Regions from separate parts of the Homo sapiens genome. Here region 1 is linked to region 2. Evidence: fine-mapped expression QTL. A gene starts in region 2. The other region holds a variant in brackets. All regions are shown on one strand. Distances are between the middles of the regions.

Region 1 (2,912 bases), 55 kb after region 2:
AATTCTGAGGAGTAGGCAGGAAAGGGAAACTTTTAGAAGGAGGATATAAGTAGAAAATCTAGGCTGGGGCCAGGCACGGTGGCTCATGCCTGTAATCCCAGCACTTTGGGAGGCCGAGGTGGGCGGATCACGAGGTCAGGAGTTCGAGACCAGCCTGACCAACATGGTGAAACCCTGTCTCTACTAAAAATAGAAAAATTAGCTGGGCGTGGTGGCATGTGCCTGTAATCCCAGCTACTCGGGAGGCTGAGGCAAGAGAATCACTTGAACCCATGAGACGGAGGTTGCAGTGGCCGAGATGGCGCCACTGCACTCCAGCTGGGGCAACAGAAGACAGAGTGAGGCTCCGTTTCCAAAAAAAAAAAAAAAAAGAAAGAAAATCTAGGCTGGGCATGGTGGCTCACGTCTGTAATCCCAGCACTTTGGGAGGCCAAGGCAGGTGGATCACAAAGTCAGGAGATCAAGACGATCCTGGCTAACACAGTGAAACCCCATCTCTACTAAAAATACAAAAAATTAGCTGGGCGTGGTGGCATGTGCCTTTAGTCCCAGCTACTTGGGAGGCTGAGGCAGGAGAATCACTTGAACCTGGGAGGTGGAGGTTGCAGTGAGCCAAGATTGTGCCACTGCACTCCAGCCTGGGCAACAGAGCCAGACTTCATCTCAAAAAAAAAAAAAAAAGAAAAAAGAAAAGAAAATCTAATTGGGGTTCACACACTAAAATATCAGTGTTAATAGTATTTTTACATTTGGAAATAATTATAGATTCACAGGAGGTTGAAAAATTAGTGCAGAGAGGTTCTCTGTACCCTTCACCCAGTTTCTCCTAATGGTCAGGTCTTACATAATTATAGTGCAATATCAGTTGTAAATTTTTTATTGAGACAGTTGATTTTCATATTCTTTCCCGTTTATTATAGCACATGTGCCTCACTCTTCATGGTAAATGTTTTACTGAAGAATAACATACAGAAAAGTGGACAAGTCTTAACTGCACAGCTCAATGAATTTCCATGAAGTAAATATACCCATATGATAATCCAGCTCAAGAAACAGAAAATCACTACCACCCCAGAAGACTGCCTTATACTACCATCTTTTAAGAGTGAATCACACATGGGGTACTCCTTGTATCTGGCCTCTTTCTTTTTTTCTTTCTTTTTAATTATTATTTTTGTTTGAGATGGAGTCTCATTCTGTCACCCAGGCTAGAGTGCAGTGTCATGATCTCGGCTCACTGTAACCTCTGCCTCCCGGGTTCAAGCAATTCTCCTGCCTCAGCCTCCTGAGTAGCTGGGACTACAGGCACCCGCCACCACGCCCAGCTGATTTTTGTATTTTTGGTAGAGACAGGGTTTCGCCATGTTGGCCAGGCTGGTCTCGAACTTCTGTCCTCAGGTGATCCACCCACCTCGGCCTCCCAAAGTGCTGGGATTACAGGCGTGAGCCACTGCACCCGGCCTGTTTCCAGCCTTTGTTCAACATTATGTTTGTGAAGTTAATCTGTGTTGTTTTATGTAATTATAGTTCACT[C/T]ATTCTTTCATGGGCTTAAATCTTTTTACAATAAAATTTTAAGAGAATAAAATTGTAAAAAAAAAAAGCTCATGACATGCAATAAACTGTATAATTTGATGCGTTTTGACATGTATACACCCATATCAGTACCACAGTCAAGATCATGAATACATCTATTTCCTCAAAATAGTCCATGAATTTTTTTTTTTGAGACAGAATCTCGCTCTGTCGCCCAGGCTGTAGTGCAGCGCGCGATCTCGGTTCACTGCAACCTCAGTCTCCCGGGTTCAAGCAATTCTCCTGCCTCAGCCTCCCGAGTAGCTGGGACTACAGACGCGTGCAACCACGCCCCTGTAGTCCCAGCTAATTTTTTGTATTTTTAGTAGAGATAGGGTTTCACTGTGTTAGCCAGGATAGTCTTGATCTCCAGACCTCGTGATCCGCCCACCTCGGCTTCCCAAAGTGATGCGTCCATGAATTTTTTAAAACTAAAAATGGGACCTGGATAAAGTGAACATCTTAGGGCCGTAATGACCTCCAGACCTTTTGCAGAAGGTTGGAATAGGTAATATTTATTTTTCCCTGTTGTTAAGAAGACTTTAATGAGAAAAGTTTCTATTATATATCTTCTGTATTTTAAATTAGCCAACATTTGTACGCACATACAACAAACTGGACTAAATTTTGGGATTTACTCCAATAAGTACAATAATAGTGTTTAGAGAGCTATAGATAAGAGAATATTTGCTTTATCAATCTTTTTTTACATGGCATTTTTAAAATATGCAGAATACTTTTGTTATAATGTACAGTTCTTCCATCTCCTTACTTATGTCATCACAGTGATTCATAGTTGAGGAATTATAAGAATAGAGGGGTCAAAAGACTGTAAAGTCAGAACAGCAAGATTTTTGACAAGGAAGGAAGACATATTCTGGCAAACTTAACATTAATGCCAGGAACAAGTCTAGATTGGATTTTCATAGGTGATTTGAGAGTACTTAAGGAAAAGACATGATCATTTAGAGCCAGCCTAAGTTTACCAAAAACAGGTTAAGCCACACTAACTTTATTTTTCAGATAAGATTAGCATATTCGTAGTCTGGAAAATGCTATACAAAGAATGTAAAGCATGAAACTACTTGTGGACCAAATGAAAAACTGTGGAGCAGATTATGATGCAGTTAGACCTTGCTTGAATGACTTTGACCCACAAAAGCAGGTAAATGTTCCCCTGGACTGAGGCTTTTGGTTACATTGCAAGGTTCCATCACGGGCTCTATTACATTTAACATTTTTAGTAATTATTTGGATGGAAAATCACATAAAATTAAATTTGTAGATTACATGTAGTTGTTAAGGATTACTAATGTATTCATTGACACTAAAGAATTATT
Region 2 (2,912 bases):
TAATTCCCTTTCCCTTTCTCCATGGCACATAGGAGAAAATCAATTTTTAAAAAGCTACATTTATGGTTATCTTACTGTAATCCTGTGGCAGGTCCAGAATTTCCAAATAGATGGGGACAGAGGAGTAATCTGGAAGGAAGACTTGAAGATGCTTTTGCATAGTACTCTATATTAAGGTAGAAAATACCAGTTGGCCATATCAAAAAACTGAGAAAAAGCGATTTGAGGGAAATATTTCCCTCCCCTTTGGCACCACGATTGCTGTATTCTAGGCACTAAACCAAACCAAACCTCTTACCTAATCTCCTTTCTTCCTCAAAACAAGCCTATTAAGTAGATGAGGAAATTGAGGCTAGATTGGAATAGAAACTGGCTCAGGGTCACAAAGCACCTAAGGAGCACTTTAGCTCTCCCACAGCTTTCTACAGCTCTTTATATGCAACTAGTGTTTCTCATTACCCATCTTGATATAATGTGTATTTATGTGCGTTAGCTTCTCAATGGCAGAGTTAGTGTTATTCATTTCTGTATCCTTGTAGCCAAGAACAAGTATATATTTTGTTAAATTAAGCATGTGAAAGAATCAGGTGAGGATAGCATGAAGAAAGGCAGCAGGGGAAAGTTTCAAGAAATGGATGGTCAGCAGCGTCAAATGGTACAGAGAGAGCTATCAGTCTATCTTAAATCATCATTGGCATTCAACTGATATTCCATATTCGTTTATTGAACGTCTACTACACGCAGGACATTGTGTTAAGCACTACAAACACATAGGAAAAATAAAAGTCTCGTACAAGTAAAAGGATTTTCGGGGAAGTAGCTTCATCTAAATTCTTGCTCAGGAAAGCAAAACGAAGACTCAGGCCTGCAACTGCCTACATCTTATTTGGCTCAGGTAAATCGGAAGACAACTCAAAAGGGGCACAGCGCATCTTTAATAAAACTTCTCATGGAAGACGAGATAAAGAGCCACAGAAACTCAGTCTCGGTAACGATGGCCGGTGGCCACGGAGGCCGACTTCCCCCGGAGTCTCTCGCCTCCTGAGCAGCGCTGGGGCTGCCCCTCGCTCCCCCTCCGTAGTCTGGGGCGGGAAAAAGCAGACACTTACCGCAAAAGACACCGCTAAAGCCGTGGCCCTGAGGGGCCGGGAATTCCTTAGCGAGGCCCCACGCCGTCGGAAGAAACCCAAGAAAGCTGGGAGCAGACAGACAGGTATGACCCCACAACCCAACTTCCCGAACTAGATAAAGTAGGGTCCCAACGCCCAGCACCACGTCGTCAACTCCCACCAGCTGGAAGACCAACGGAGTGCCAGCGAACCTTCCGCCCAATGAGGAAACGTCACCACTCCGCGTAGTCCAGCCTTTCTATAGGAGAATCTACTTCCGCTTCCGGGGCACACCGCCGCGTTCCTTCTACGCGGCTCCTGAAACAGTTTAGATGTTTACTTGCTTACACTGGTTTTTGGTTTCAGTTTCCTACCGCTGAATAACTGCAGGAGTAAAGTTAGTGGTAAAATAGGAGGCTGTCTAGGGACGTGATTTCGGGGAAGAAGTCAGGCCTCGACGAGCCACCTTAAGAAAAGTGACTAGGCGGAGCACTCCCAGCTAAGAGCGGAAAGATGAGAGATAGAGGTGTGACTGAAGGCAGGGATCCCCAGGCGCACGTGAGACCTCCGTAGAGGGGCGGGGCTTAGGGCTTTGCAGACCGGAGGCTTGTTCCGCGGAGGGTGGGGCGGTCTCTGCTTGCGCATGCGCAATGCCAGCCAGTGCCTGCGCGGCTTGCTCCAGCAAGGTAAAATTTCCCACTGCGAGGCAGGCAGTGATGCTGCGGCCGCTTCGCACTGTGGCTCCTGCCGACCGCCAGGCGCTGTTACAGTGGATGCGAACTAACCGTAAGTGTAAGTGACCAGAGCTAGAGGCAGGTGGTGGGGGCAAGGATATGCTGCAGGCGCTGACTTTGAGGACTTAAGCGGGGTGAAGCCAACAGCCTTCCTTGGGATCGTTGTGCTGGTCTCTGCTGTCTTGGGGGGTAGATTGACCAGGGCTTTGAGTGCTCTAACGGAAAAGAGAGTTAGTTGCTCGCCACACGTAGACACCAATTAACAAGAGCGAGCCCTAGTATACAAGAAGAGGGATTTTATTTCTGAAGCCAGCCCGCTTCGTCTTTGGAGCAAAAAAGCGGGCATTTTATAAGGTACAAGAGGAAATGAGCAAGAGGTCTCTGCTAGCTGGTGCCTTATCTACCGGGTAGTTGAGTTGGTGCATTTCTGAGCAGAAATAAGTTGTAAAAGTGGCCAAGTGGGCATGCTTTCTGCTTACCCTTCTGAGGCGACCGCCTGGCGGTGGGAGTTGCGTCTTGGATCTCGTAGATGAATTTGCTCTGTAGAGAATGGTCTGGTGAGGGGAGTTGAGAGGTTATTTTGCAGTTCAAAAAGGGCTAAGTGGAAAGTGTAGTGGGGAGGGGAAAAGAGGGGAAAAAATAAACTATCTCTTGGAAAATGGGGGTAATCGGATACAGTACCACTTGGAATTAATTGGGTGTGGGAAACCTGGTTCTGAGTGGTTTGTGAGTTTTCAGCAGACTTCGGACAAGCCTTTAGAGCTCCTTGTGCCTAACCCTTTTTCTGAAAGAAAATAGAGGGTTAGCCCTCCTCCCCATTACTCCCACAAACTTGTTAGAATTGGTACGTTGCCACCTGAAAAAGCATTTTGCAGGAGAGGTTTTAGGCTGTAGCGTTAGTAGGAAGTGTTAAACGAAAAACCTTAGCCAAGTTAAATTTAACATTTTGAGCAAAGAATGATTCACGAATCGGGCAGGCTCAGAGAGATTGCAGCGCAGCCAAGTGTTGAAGATTTATAGACAGAAAAAGGCTGCAGTGAGCTTTGATCCCGCTGCTTCACTCCAGCCT

Direction of the effects. Positions count from the first base shown, and alleles are read on the strand shown. Sizes are in standard deviations (SD) of each study's normalised expression.
With allele T in place of C in region 1, the expression in stomach of the gene that starts at base 1,333 in region 2 is higher (moderate effect, 0.57 SD a copy in GTEx).

The links. PIP is the estimated chance that this variant, and not a neighbour inherited with it, causes the effect.
Region 1: its variant is fine-mapped to the expression of SRP54 in stomach (GTEx, PIP above 0.99).

What each region holds. Positions count from the first base shown.
Region 1 is chr14:34,926,211-34,929,122 of GRCh38, reverse strand. All of the region lies in intron 2 of SRP54-AS1 (SRP54 antisense RNA 1), which reads left to right. Among named protein-coding and RNA genes, the nearest start is that of BAZ1A, 52 kb to the right of the region's middle. The variant C/T (reference allele first, on the strand shown) is at 1,534.
Region 2 is chr14:34,981,413-34,984,324 of GRCh38, reverse strand. It overlaps SRP54 (signal recognition particle 54), which reads right to left and starts at 1,333. Exons shown (of 16, transcript NM_003136.4): 1 at 1,110-1,333. It overlaps SRP54-AS1 (SRP54 antisense RNA 1), which reads left to right and starts at 1,759. Exons shown (of 5, transcript NR_151701.1): 1 at 1,759-1,901. RefSeq lists enhancers at 863-1,122, 1,153-1,652, 1,833-1,922, 1,313-2,014, 2,133-2,182.